Linked DNA regions of Homo sapiens. The protein of the gene in region 2 interacts with the protein of the main gene of each other region in a biochemical or structural test. Each region holds a gene or a part of one and is shown on either strand. Other genes may lie near its edges. The genes, in order: FST, BMPR2, GDF9 and KIT.

What was found.
Region 1: the proteins of BMPR2 (region 2) and FST are reported together in a solved structure, tested with the Homo sapiens proteins (one study listed by BioGRID).
Region 3: the proteins of BMPR2 (region 2) and GDF9 form a complex in vitro, tested with the Homo sapiens proteins (one study listed by BioGRID).
Region 4: the proteins of BMPR2 (region 2) and KIT form a complex in vitro, tested with the Homo sapiens proteins (one study listed by BioGRID).

What each region holds. Positions count from the first base shown.
Region 1 is NC_000005.10:53,483,602-53,487,677, forward strand, and holds the end of FST (follistatin isoform FST344 precursor), read left to right. Parts: coding exon 1-121; intron 122-467; coding exon 468-692; coding exon of another isoform or gene 693-731; intron 732-1,395; coding exon 1,396-1,626; intron 1,627-2,085; coding exon of another isoform or gene 2,086-2,087; exon of another isoform or gene 2,088-2,326; coding exon of another isoform or gene 2,327-2,349; coding exon 2,350-2,432; 3' UTR 2,433-3,533; downstream 3,534-4,076. UniProt on the Homo sapiens protein: Multifunctional regulatory protein whose primary function is to antagonize members of the transforming growth factor beta (TGF-beta) superfamily including activin, myostatin, GDF11 or bone morphogenetic proteins (BMPs).
Region 2 is NC_000002.12:202,379,271-202,382,840, reverse strand, and holds part of BMPR2 (bone morphogenetic protein receptor type-2 precursor), read right to left. Parts: intron 1-3,570. UniProt on the Homo sapiens protein: On ligand binding, forms a receptor complex consisting of two type II and two type I transmembrane serine/threonine kinases.
Region 3 is NC_000005.10:132,860,615-132,863,469, reverse strand, and holds the end of GDF9 (growth/differentiation factor 9 isoform 1 preproprotein), read left to right. Parts: intron 1-913; coding exon 914-1,881; 3' UTR 1,882-2,285; downstream 2,286-2,855. UniProt on the Homo sapiens protein: Required for ovarian folliculogenesis. Promotes primordial follicle development. Stimulates granulosa cell proliferation. Promotes cell transition from G0/G1 to S and G2/M phases, through an increase of CCND1 and CCNE1 expression, and RB1 phosphorylation.
Region 4 is NC_000004.12:54,727,446-54,731,015, reverse strand, and holds part of KIT (mast/stem cell growth factor receptor Kit isoform 1 precursor), read right to left. Parts: coding exon 3,474-3,570; intron 3,194-3,473; coding exon 3,089-3,193; intron 3,006-3,088; coding exon 2,895-3,005; intron 1,682-2,894; coding exon 1,531-1,681; intron 1-1,530. UniProt on the Homo sapiens protein: Tyrosine-protein kinase that acts as a cell-surface receptor for the cytokine KITLG/SCF and plays an essential role in the regulation of cell survival and proliferation, hematopoiesis, stem cell maintenance, gametogenesis, mast cell development, migration and function, and in melanogenesis.

The DNA.
Region 1 (4,076 bases), on a different chromosome or scaffold from region 2:
ACCTGGAAGGGTCCAGTCTGCGGGCTGGATGGGAAAACCTACCGCAATGAATGTGCACTCCTAAAGGCAAGATGTAAAGAGCAGCCAGAACTGGAAGTCCAGTACCAAGGCAGATGTAAAAGTAGGTCCTACCCTGTTGAGCAAGACTGGATCTGTCCCCTCCTCCAGCTTTGTACCTAAAGTAGACCCTCTAGAAGACCCTTGGGGGATGGTGTAGTCCGCAGTAAGAGCCTGATAATAGTAATACTGAAACCAAATAAAGGAGTCCTTTTCTAACCTCTAGAGATTCATTAAGAACACTGAGGGGACCAACCTAGTCATAGATTCTCTCTTGAAAACTACAGGGCTCCCTAAGTGCCTTTTGAAAGCTGGATGCTTCAGTGTCATGATTTCCTTGGTAACTTCAAGTGCTCACTCCCTAAGGACTAGAAGGTACCTATTCATGTGTGTTTCCTTCTTTGTTCCAGAGACTTGTCGGGATGTTTTCTGTCCAGGCAGCTCCACATGTGTGGTGGACCAGACCAATAATGCCTACTGTGTGACCTGTAATCGGATTTGCCCAGAGCCTGCTTCCTCTGAGCAATATCTCTGTGGGAATGATGGAGTCACCTACTCCAGTGCCTGCCACCTGAGAAAGGCTACCTGCCTGCTGGGCAGATCTATTGGATTAGCCTATGAGGGAAAGTGTATCAGTAGGTATTCTGGATTGAGGAAGGAAAAAGAGAAAACAGGCTAGTTCTATTATTAAACTGTGGGGTTAACTAATAAGTAAAGCCCAAGGCGTCCCCAAACACCATAGGGAGAAATACGCTGCAATTTGGGGAAAGTGTTGTGACCACAGTATTCCTCATGGAAACCATTGTCTTCTGGAGGCATTGACACATATATTCAAATGCCAGCAGGAAGCAAGGAACAGTATTCCGTCTTAGAAAACTTAGAACTTACTCAATTTTACACATTTTTTTAAGTGCCAGACTTGCTGGAAGCGAAAAATAATTACTTAGCAGTTCCAGAAATCTGTTGTCAGATTCTAGTAATTAATGGAATTCTTTCTTTTGTAAAAGATCCCACTTGTGGGAAATAATAAGATACATATTTAACTTGAGAATATTGTAAAATCCTGTTCTTAAAAAAATACCCTTTTAATGCACTAATGTAGTATGTAAGAAACTGCAGGGGTTTTGTGCGTGTGTATGTGTGTGTGCATTTGAGTTTCAGTTTTATTATCCAGCATTTTTGCATAATATCTCCATTACCCCCATTAGTAATAGGCTATTACTATTATGTTTATATAAAATAAATTATGTTTATATTTATTGATAGAGGACTAGAGAAAGGGAGAAAAGGGGGATATGGGGAAATCAGTTTACTCATCACAGATGTATTATATCCTAGAAGCAAAGTCCTGTGAAGATATCCAGTGCACTGGTGGGAAAAAATGTTTATGGGATTTCAAGGTTGGGAGAGGCCGGTGTTCCCTCTGTGATGAGCTGTGCCCTGACAGTAAGTCGGATGAGCCTGTCTGTGCCAGTGACAATGCCACTTATGCCAGCGAGTGTGCCATGAAGGAAGCTGCCTGCTCCTCAGGTGTGCTACTGGAAGTAAAGCACTCCGGATCTTGCAACTGTAAGTGCGATTTTTAACCTTGCTGCCATTTAAGGCTTTCCCAGGCAATCCCTAGGGAATGGACACTTACAAAGCACGCAGATCTCCCATAAATCCATTTCTGTTCAAATTAGGTAGCTGCTAAGTATCACCAGCAATTCAATAATCCACAGAAAATTCTCTGCGATGTTTCTTGGCTTTTAGGACTTATCTGGTGATCATCAATGGGGTTGCCTCTAGAAATCTATTTCCAGTTGTTTTCCCCTATTTCTTGTGTTTTGGTAGTGTGCTTTGCTGTTTGCTTTATTAACATTTGAGTCTAAACTAACTGCTTCAAAAGTTTTTTTTTTTTTTTTCCAACGACAGCTTCATATTATCACACATGGGCTGCTGCTTTTTGCAGTTGCCTCTACTAACTCTGAATTAAGGACCCAAAGCAGTTATACCTAGAACACAAGAGCGCTTTTTATCTAATTTCAGGAATCTGCCCGTAAAACCTGAGCCATTGATTCTTCAGAACTTTCTGCAGTTTTTGACTTCATAGATTATGCTTTAAAAAAATTTTTTTAACTTATTGCATAACAGCAGATGCCAAAAACAAAAAAAGCATCTCACTGCAAGTCACATAAAAATGCAACGCTGTAATATGGCTGTATCAGAGGGCTTTGAAAACATACACTGAGCTGCTTCTGCGCTGTTGTTGTCCGTATTTAAACAACAGCTCCCCTGTATTCCCCCATCTAGCCATTTCGGAAGACACCGAGGAAGAGGAGGAAGATGAAGACCAGGACTACAGCTTTCCTATATCTTCTATTCTAGAGTGGTAAACTCTCTATAAGTGTTCAGTGTTGACATAGCCTTTGTGCAAAAAAAAAAAAAAAAAAAAAGAAAAAGAAAAAAAGAAAAATATATTGTCCATACTGTAAATAAGTGTATGCTTATTTATTTGGGGGGAAAACTATACATTAAAGGACCTTTGTCCTAAAGCTCTCTCCCAGGCCACCTTGTTACTCATTGGACACGGAGAGGCATTCATTGTGAGGTCTACTGGATGAGGCCCATAGTTGAGACTTGTAGACATTTATTTATACTGTGTCATGTTTTATAATTTATACATAAAATGTCTGGTTGACTGTATACCTTGTTTTTGAAGAAATTTATTCGTGAAAGGAAGAGCAGTTGTTATTTATTGTGAGGTCTCTTGCTTGTAAAGTAAAAGCTTTTTTTCCTTGTAAACCATTTAAGTCCATTCCTTACTATTCACTCACTCATCTGTCTCCCTTCATTTCACTGTTAGACTCTTTTCCACTTTCAACAAACTTGCATGTCAGTTTCTGTCATGTTTATTTATTGGATTCTCTGCTGCCTGATCTGTACATACATGATCCCTCGGGTTTTGTTTACAAGGAACCTTGACTGACCAAAAGGCATTATAACTCTGACTCAAATACAAGGTACAGAAGATAAGCATCTTTGAGGAAACTCCTACTTCAGTTCTTTTGTTATGATGAAGACATTTGTGAGAGAGGAGATGATTAGAATTCTAGTAATGTACTTTTAAGATGTTACAGATACAAAGAAATGATGTGGGTGTCAGGAGACTAAAGGATGTTGAAGGCTACACATTCAACCTTTTGTTAGGTGTTTCCTTTAAGCTACTCAGCTGTACCTTTTAAATTAGTTCTTTTTCAACCAGTATATCACTAAAAGTTATATCAAAGCTTTATCAGTTCAAGTTTCTTGCTTTTCATAATACTTTTTTCTGATGCAATTTTATATTTTCAAACATGGCAAGTTAAAATATAAATTCATTTAAATATATAGTTTTGTACTTTTCTACCATGTAAATGTGCAATGTATATAAAAGTTATAATGTGTATTTGTAAATAAATGATGAGTGAAAAAATAAAAAAATTTTAAAAAGCCAATGGTTTCAATTCCTGATGATGCAAAGAAGTTATTTGGACTTTTGAGTAAAAATGTGTATGATACCTTTGCTGAGGAATGTAGCTATCTCTGAAATTACATGGCCAGGGCAGTACAGATCACTTCACTGGAGTTTGAAAGATAAAGGGATCTGAGGTCCAGCAACCCCACTGTAGGAGTGGCATATACCTGTCACTAACCACAGAAGGAACAGACTGTAGATGTGGGTTCTTTCCTGCAATATGCCAAGGCTAATATTTCCTCTTTAAAAACACCATCGTTTTAGCTGTCCTTGTTGCAAGCTCATCACCATAGCCAGGGACACGCTTCATCTTACTTTCCCATAAATCCAGTGCAGTTTCAGTCTTTTAAAAAACAACACACATCACAAGGAAAGCTGACAACAGATATAATATTTGACAAACACATTCTAGAAATCAGAATATCAGCTGCAGAAGTAGACATTATAGTGTTGGAATGCTAGGGACTTGATGAGGTGAGGATGGGGTGGAGGTGAATTTCCACAATGATGTCCATGGTTAGGG
Region 2 (3,570 bases):
CAAGTACAACCCCATATTATTACAAGTAAGAAAACTATGTTAAGTAACCTATTTGCCCGGAATCATATAGAATCTAGGTCTCATTAACTCCCAACAGTGGTCTTCCCACTATACCTCTTAAACTACATACTTTATAGTTGAAGGAACTAGGACAAAGAAAAAGTTATTGGTGTGTTATTTGAGTCAATAAACAACCCTAGAATATTCCTGGTTGAAATTCCTATTTATTATTCATTCACTAAGTATTTCTTAAATGTCTACTAAATTATAAAACTAATCAGACATGAATACTGTCCTCTGGAAGCAATTATCAGTAGGAAGGACAAGGCAAATACATAAAACTGATACCTGGTCAGGTGCGGTAGCTCACACCTGTAATCCCAACACTTTGGGAGGCCAAGGTGGGTGGATCAGCTGAGGTAAGGAGTTTGAGACCAGCCTGGCCAACATGGTGAAACCCCATCTCTACTAAAAATAAAAAAATTTCGGGTGTGGTGGCTCACACCTGTAATCCCAGCACTTTGGGAGGCCAGGGCAGGTGGATCACAAGATCAGGAGTTCGAGACCGGCCTGGCTAGCATAGTGAAACCCCATCTCTACTAAAAATACAAAAATTAACCAGGCATGATGGTGCACACCTATAATCCCAGCTACTCGGGAGGCTGAGGCAGGAGAATGGCTTGAACCTGGGAGGTGGAGGTTGTAATGAGTCGAGATCGTGCCACTCCACTCCAGGCTGTGTGACAGAGCAAGACTCCATCTCAAAAAAAAAAAAAAAAAAACAAAAACAAAAACTGATATCCAGCAGCACAGCAATCTATGAGTAGGTGCCAAAATAAGTGGTGTGGCCAATTATAAAATTAACTGATTCACACAGATTCCACTCAGTATTTTTTTAATGGTTAGAATTTACCCATTAGAGATCAATATTCAATTTCTTCTCTTTTTGTTAAAAAAAAAACTGGCCTTTAATGAAGGAAAGGTTTTGTCTTGTGTGAACAGTTATCTCTCACCTCACTACTCATCCACATCAATACCACTACTATCACATCATCCCACATGCCAGAATAGCTTTTGTAGAGACCAAAGTTTATATCATTTTAATGCAAAAAACTAATTAAGAGGTTGGCCCTCTTCAAAGGGTAAGAAAAGCCTCCCTTCTGGACCATCTTACTGGTTATATGTGGTCTACTGAGAATTTCAATTCTTCGTTCTTCTGCAATAGTACTATATATCCAAATATTACATTAGCCTCATCACAGGCAAAGTGTACTTTGATACCTCTTGTTTCTGAGCTTAGCCTAGCCATATGACTCGGTCAGCCAATGGGATGTTAGGAGAGCAGAGTCTGGAAATGTGCTGGTAGGGTTGGGCTTGGCCTCTTGCACTTCTGCCAATGCCATGACACAAGCCTCCCCCAGATAGATGTTACTTCTCCCTCTAGCCTGGACCCCAGAAAGAGACACATGGAGCAGAATAAATGCCTATTGTTGCATGCCACTAAGATTTTGTGGTTGCCAATAATTACACAGCAAAATGTCACTGAATCACCATATTTAAGAAATCCAGCCCAGGCGTGGTGGCTCATGCCTATAATCCCAGCACTTTCGGAGGCAGAGGCAGGCAGATCACGAGGTCAGGAGTTTGAGATCAGCCTGGCCAATATGGTAAAACCACGTCTCTACTAAAAATACAAAAATTAGCCGGGTGTGGTGGTGCACACCTGTAGTCCCAGCTACTTGGGAGGCTGAGGCAGAAGAATCACTTGAACCCGGGAGGCAGAGGTTGCAGTGAGCTGAGATGGCGCCACTGCACTCCAGTCTGGGTGACCGAGCCAGACTCTGTCTCAAAAAAAAAAAAAAAAAAAAAAAAAAAGAAAGAAAGAAATCCAGGGCCAGGGCCAGGGCCAGGGCCAGGGCCAGGGCCAGGCACAGTGGCCCACACCTATAATCCCAGCATTTTGGGAGGCCGAGGCGGGCAGATCACCTGAGATCAGGAGTTCAAGACCAGCCTGACCAACATGGAGAAACCCTGTCTCTACTAACAATACAAAATTAGCCAGGAGTGGTGGCACATGCCTGTAATCCCAGCTACCCGAGAGGCTGAGGCAGAATTGCTTGAACCCGGGAGGTGGAGGTTGCAGTGAGCCGAGATCACACCATTGCACTCCAGCCTGGGCAACAAGAGCAAAACTCAAAAAAAAAAAAAAAAAGAAAGAAATCCAAACAATCAGGACTGATGATATAAAGCAGTGCTTCTCAAGCACCTGCTTGAGTGAGACTTTGCGGGGGTTCTCCCAGAGAGATTCATTCAGTACATCTGGACTATAGGGCCAAAAATATGCATTTTTATCAAGAACCCCAGGTAATTCTGTTGCAGTACCCACACTTTGAGAAAAACTAAAATGAAGATTACTAAACTTCAGTTACTCAGTAATATTCACTAACATTAGATTAATCTTACTTTATATAATGTGTGTGTTCCTCAAGAGATGTATGTAAAATTGCAATCTAATCAAGTGAATTATTTAAAACGCATTACAGAAGTTGACCTTTAAATAATAGCTGTGTTGTATTCTTTTATTAAGAATTCATTCATAAACCAAGCCAGCACATCTTATTTTTCATAAGTTGTTTTTTTTTTTGGGGGGGGCATAGAAAATGTTCTAAGAATTAGGCGGGGTGTGGTGGCTCATGCCTGTAATCCCAGCACTTTGGGAGGCCGAGGCAGGTGGATCACGAGGTCAGGAGTTCGAAACCACCCTGCCAAAATGGTGAAACCCCGTCTCCACTAAAAATACAAAAAATAAAAATAAATTAGCTGGGCATGGTGGTGGGCTCCCGTAATCTCAGCTAGTCTGGAGGCTGAGGCAGGAGAACCACTTGCGCCTGGGAGGCGGAAGTTGTGGTGAGCCAGGGTCGTGCCACTGCACTCCAGCCTGGGCGACAGAGTGATACTCTGTCTGAACAAAAAAGAAAGAAAGAAAGAAAGAAAGAAAGAAAATGTTCTAAGAATTAAGGAGTCCAAGAACTCAATAAGTGAGAAAGAGGGAATCAAAAGAAATGATTTATCCATGACCCCGAAAAAGGATGTGCTATCAATCAGTCTTCTAGGATTTATTTTCCTGTTCAGCTGCACCATTTGCGCCTGTCGAGTTAACATCACTGCATCTGTGTAACCCAAATCCACACAGGCCCTCTCTAATCAGCTTGCACTTAATGAAGCTGCACTAGCCACTTCAATATTAGGCCAAGCAAAGTTTTACATGTTCAGAACTACGACATTTGCATAACCACTGCTGCACTAACACCTTGTAAGTGTCCCTGCTTCTTTACAAAGGTTGATCTGGTGAAGGCTAATTACTCCATCTCATATATCCAATAAGATGAGAAGTTGTTGCTGCTAGTGCTGCTGTTACCATTAATGTGGTATGTGAGGGCGCACACTATAATCCTGGCTCCATAATTTACTGACTGTGTGGTGAGTTATTCAAATTCTCTGTACTTTACTCTCCCTCTATGGAAAAGGGGAATGATAATAACCTACAACATAGAATTGTCATGAAGACGA
Region 3 (2,855 bases), on a different chromosome or scaffold from region 2:
GACTCTGTCTCAAAAAAAAAAAAAAAAGTATATATCTACCAGCTCTTGATTTAAAACCATTCTAACCCAACAGGGCAGTTGTATCTGCTTCCTTAATATCCTATTTTAATATAGTGGTTTTAGAGCATCTGTTTTTAATCTCAAGTGTTCTAAATTAACTAGGACCAATTACATTGTTTTAAATTGACTTTCTTCACTAGGGCTTAGAATGTCATCTTAGTAAGTCTGATAAGTGTTTCTATTATGGTTTTCCCTCTAGAGATTATCCAAGAGAAAAATACTACTTTCCTTATCAGCTCAGCTGCTTCTGTGTTTGGAGCAAATTACTCAGAATGAAGCTTCAGGCTGAGCACAGTGGCTCATGCCTGTGATCCCAGCACTTTGGGAGGTTGAGGTGAGAGGATCGCCTGAGCCCAGAAGTTCAAGACCAGTCTGGGCAACATGGCGAGACCTTGTCTCTACAAAAACAAAAAATCAGCTGGGCATGGTAGCTCATGCCTGTAGTCCCAGCTACTTGGGAGGCTAAGGTGGGAGGATCAGTTGCACCTGGGAGGTTGAGGCTGCAGTGAGCCATGATGGTGCCACTGCACTCCAGCCTGGGTAACAGTGAGACCCTGTCTCAAAAAAATAAAAAATAAAAATGAAACTTCAGAATGTAGTGATTCCCTGTTACTTTGATTCACCACCAAATCTGACTTTCTGGAGATAAAATGTCCAGTAAGGTTGCTGGGAATTAGTAATGATACCAATTGCCTTCCTTTTCTATATTAACCCCCATTTTTTTTTTTGAGGCTTGAGAAAGTGGGGAAAAGAGAAGGGAGAAAGCATATTATGAAGTACTAATTCTTTGACTTGACTGCCTGTTGTGTTGACTGATTTTCAAGCACTACTGGTAGATTTTTTTTCTTCTTAGGAATCCTTCCATCAGTGGAACTGCTATTTAACCTGGATCGCATTACTACCGTTGAACACTTACTCAAGTCAGTCTTGCTGTACAATATCAACAACTCAGTTTCTTTTTCCTCTGCTGTCAAATGTGTGTGCAATCTAATGATAAAGGAGCCAAAGTCTTCTAGCAGGACTCTCGGCAGAGCTCCATACTCATTTACCTTTAACTCACAGTTTGAATTTGGAAAGAAACACAAATGGATTCAGATTGATGTGACCAGCCTCCTTCAACCTTTAGTGGCCTCCAACAAGAGAAGTATTCACATGTCTATAAATTTTACTTGCATGAAAGACCAGCTGGAGCATCCTTCAGCACAGAATGGTTTGTTTAACATGACTCTGGTGTCCCCCTCACTGATCTTATATTTGAATGACACAAGTGCTCAGGCTTATCACAGCTGGTATTCCCTTCACTATAAAAGGAGGCCTTCCCAGGGTCCTGACCAGGAGAGAAGTCTGTCTGCCTATCCTGTGGGAGAAGAGGCTGCTGAGGATGGGAGATCTTCCCATCACCGTCACCGCAGAGGTCAGGAAACTGTCAGTTCTGAATTGAAGAAGCCCTTGGGCCCAGCTTCCTTCAATCTGAGTGAATACTTCAGACAATTTCTTCTTCCCCAAAATGAGTGTGAGCTCCATGACTTTAGACTTAGCTTTAGTCAGCTGAAGTGGGACAACTGGATTGTGGCTCCGCACAGGTACAACCCTCGATACTGTAAAGGGGACTGTCCAAGGGCAGTTGGACATCGGTATGGCTCTCCAGTTCACACCATGGTACAGAACATCATCTATGAGAAGCTGGACTCCTCAGTGCCAAGACCGTCATGTGTACCTGCCAAATACAGCCCCTTGAGTGTTTTGACCATTGAGCCCGATGGCTCAATTGCCTATAAAGAGTACGAAGATATGATAGCTACAAAGTGCACCTGTCGTTAACAAATGGTCCTCTTAAAACCTTGAGCCTATTTGGCAAAGTAACTACTGTGTGCCTATGTGTGCCTTCAAGAGAAAGCTTCATATATTAAGTCTCTAAATGTAGCATATGTTATATAAAGAGGAGCCTGTGTAGGTTAGTACCTTCTATGGCATCTATCAGGATAAAGGGATAACATCAATTGTTGCTACAGAGCCTTTTTTTATTTCCAAATTTAAATGAAATATAATTATTGTGGAGAACTTTACATTTTTTTCCTTGAGTGATTTTTTTTCTTTTCATAGGAGTCTTATTCTTGATAGGGAAAAAACCTTAATTAGCATCAATCCTGGATGGACTTGCAGCTATAAATAGGCAATTCAGATTGCTGTAGTCTTAATAGAAGAATAAATTTCTGTCAATGGCATAAATTTTGTGTGTGTTTTATTAAATATTGCTTTTAAGCTGATCATTTAGTGGGGGAGAGGAAGTGTCTAAAAGCTGGCCATAGCTCGACTTTTGATCCTTTTTCAGAGTGAAAGGGAGGCTAATGTCACCGAAATTCTCATGAAGTTAAGACTCACTAGGACTAGAGAGCAGGCAGTGTAACCCATTTCCGTTGCTTTAGTGTGATTGGTGAACAGTATACTAATTCTCCTTGTTAACTAGCATATATAAATCAATCGAGTCACACAGAACAATATAACATTTGTCCCATTCATGTAAAGGAAATTGCCTTGCATGTTTTTCCAAGAAAACCTACGTACAAGACTTTGTAAGTGTATTTTTTTCTTTATATATTTAAAACCTCTGACCTTATGAAAGGCAGCCAGGGAAGGTTTTTTGTTTTGGTTTGGTTTTTGCTGATTTGCTTAGCTCCCTCCACTCCACCCCCACAGGTTTTTTTCCAGATAGATTTATAACTGTTCCTACTAAGCTTGCAGTAGTGACTGGTTATGTTATTGACTGGGTCTTATGTGGATGCTAGGGTTTTTAT
Region 4 (3,570 bases), on a different chromosome or scaffold from region 2:
TCCCGTATTACCTCAAACTCTCTAAATGAGCCCCAGGAGACAAGATGAAAGAAAGACAAAGAAGAGCTTCCAAGACGTGTTATGCAGGAGGCAGAGATCGTTAACATATAGTGACTGATGGAGGAAGGTTTAAAAAAAAATCAAGTTGGTTCAGATAAACACCAATAATTTGGATGATTTTCTGAACCATCTGGACCTCTTCAATCTGCAACATTTGGCTGGAGACTCTTCAAGATTTCTAGTACTTCCTGCTTCTGATTAGCATAGAAACACCATGACAACAATCTCCTTCAGAGTGTGCTGGTGGTTCCAATCCCATATGGGATCCCAAAGCACAAAGAACATCACACAGGATTGAACAATTTAGGCCATTATATCAGAAAGTTAAAGGATATATATAGGGCCAAGGTTTCGGAAAGAAGCAAAATGGCTCATTTCTTCATATAATGAGCACATGCCCAGGAGAAACTAACAAAAAGTGGTTTTGTACAGTTTCTACTACCACTTTAAACTACTCAAGTTTATAGGATTAAAAAAAAATAAAAAGTTTCACCTGGGGTTTTAAACTTTAGCCAGAGGTACAGAAAATGGCTTTAAGGGGTAATTGCCCATCAATAATATTTACTGAGGTCTCCTTGAGGACCTGGTGTTAAGAGTTCAGGAGGCAATGTCTTGCCATTGCAAGATGCAGTGGATATAAAGTGCATGAAAAGGATAGGAGAAATCTACCACACAACTGCAGCAATATACAGTATAGGGGACTGGGCAAAATAACCATGACTTCTGTTGGACTGGGTACATCTAGGAAGTCTTCTCAAATGGTGGCCCTTAAGAGCATTTCCAAAGAAAGAATAGGCAAGATATGAGAAGAATTCTTTTCTGGTTGTAAGTCAAACTCAAAGCTCTTTATACATGATTCAAATTCAGAATGGCATCAATGATGAAAGAGATGAGAATAATGTCCAGAATTTTTAAAAAATGTGCTGGAGTAGTTATGTCTTTTAATAGCATGATGAAATAAAAAGGGCAAGAGGCAAGGTATACAGGAATAATCCAGAGGTCGATGGCAAGAAGCCTACATGTGGAGATATGTTCAGAGCTCTTTGTCATTCTGCTAAAGGTTTTAAAGGGACTTTACTGTGGCAACTTGAGAGGCTTTAGCATTTTCCCTATAAACAGTATCTCACTGGAAACATGCATGTAGTACCAAGCTCAATAGTATAAATGGAAATACATGCAGGACAGAACCGTAAGAGAAACAGATATAGAATGCATTCAGTTGCATGGAACTAAAGTGTAGAAGAAAACTGAAAATACATTTTTAAAAAATCAGCAAAAATCTAGGTTTGAATCTTTAAAAACACAATTTAACTTTCTAAACTGTTAATCACATTTAAATGATTTAATAATTTTGATTTCATACCTCAGAGTACCTCAGTTCATTTTTTAAAGAATCAGCCTTGATTGCAAACCCTTATGACCCCATGAACTGCCTGTCAACAGCTAACTATTTATGTAAATCAGTCTTACCAGGAAGACTCCTTTGAATGCAGAAGATTCTTATAAAGTGCAGCTTCTGCATGATCTTCCTGCTTTGAACAAATAAATGAATCACGTTTTCTTCTCAAAAAATTCAAAAGATCACCATAGCAACAATATTCTGTAATGACCAGGGTGGGCCCTAAAAGCACATAAGAAAAGGTTAGAAAGAAGGTGAGATATATAGATTAATTCTGCCTCCCATAAAAATACCCAAGGGTGGTCATGGCCATTAATATTCAGCTTCAGTGGATCAGACTACTTAGTCCCAATACAATCCCATATATTAACACTGCTTATCAAAAAAGCAGCCTTATGTGGAGTAACATAAAACAAGCAAGCCTCTTTTAACCTGAATTTCTAAGTGACATTAGTATTTGGAGCCAAGCATGACTGCTGGTTTTACAGAGAGAAGTTACTGCTTTCAAAGATTCTACTATTATCAAGCTTCCTACGTGAATCCTCTGGTTCACTTCTGTTTACAGCAGGGCTTCACACACTCTCTGTAACGTTATTATGGAAATAATGAAGGCACAAACTGTGGCATAGTGGGAAAATCAGCCACAAGGAGCAGCCAGCTGGGACAAGACTGGAAAGTGAGTGAAAACCTAAAATGACCTGTGTTCTGAGCGCTACTAGTTGAAAAATTTTTTGGTGCTATGAATGTTTAAACTGTAGTTTAGAAGTAACAGGCAACTAATTAACTTGGGTAAGAAATTTTCTCATGAACAATTCATGATGTGGTGAAGCAACATTTATGGGGATTATTGGAAGACATGATATAAGGCTGTCAACTTTATCGTGGATCTCCAGAAACAGCTCATTTTACACATCTTTGTTTCTTTCAACTGAAATACTTTCTGCAAACATCACAGACATCCTTGATGGGAACTTCAACTAAGGCTTCAAATTGGAAACTTATTTTTAGAGAAGTGAAATGTTTGCCTCATTTGGTGTATATTTGAGAACCAGTAGGCTTAGGCGCCTGTTTTAAATTGTAGTATGCAAATTAATATTAACCCTTTCAGTGGCTACATATGATCAAGAAATGTATAAAGCTTACAAGATAACAGAAGCCTTCTGGTCGGGATGAGATATTCAAGAGGCTGATGTCGTTGATGTTACAAATACGACAATAACTAGGGTATGTCCTGGGCTGTTCTACCCCATAATGATAAAATTAAAATCTGCATTCTTAAGAACAATGAGGAAAACAAAATCTAGCAAGAGAGAACAACAGTCTGGGTAAAAAAATCTTCCAAGCAGTTTATAATCTAGCATTGCCAAAATCATATTAAAATGTCATGTTTTGATAACCTGACAGACAATAAAAGGCAGCTTGGACACGGCTTTACCTCCAATGGTGCAGGCTCCAAGTAGATTCACAATATTCATGTGATTACCAAGGTAACTCAGGACTTTGAGTTCAGACATGAGGGCTTCCCGTTCTGTCAAATGGGCACTCGCTAAAATTGGAAACATGCATTTTAGCAAAAAGCACAACTGGCAAACTGATGTCAAGCGCATGCAGTACCATACAGGAACTTACGCTTGAGCATCTTTACAGCGACAGTCATGGCCGCATCTGACTTAATTAAGCCATAAGCAGTTGCCTCAACAACCTTCCCGAAAGCTCCAGCACCCAGGGTTTTCCCTGTAGGAAGGAAGACAACAAGGTAAGTGGTGATGGTGCTGGTGGTGGAATTGAAGGACCATTTGTGCAGTTTCAAAATCAATAAAGGAATTAAAAACAATGTTGTCCAGAGACATTTTCCTACGATGTTCTCTATGGCAAACCTATCAAAAGGGGCGCAATTTCACAGAAAACTCATTGTTTCAGGTGGAACAAAACAAAGGAAGCCACTGGAGTTCCTTAAAGTCACTGTTATGTGTACCCAAAAAGGTGACATGGAAAGCCCCTGTTTCATACTGACCAAAACTCAGCCTGTTTCTGGGAAACTCCCATTTGTGATCATAAGGAAGTTGTGTTGGGTCTATGTAAACATAATTGTTTCCATTTATCTCCTCAAC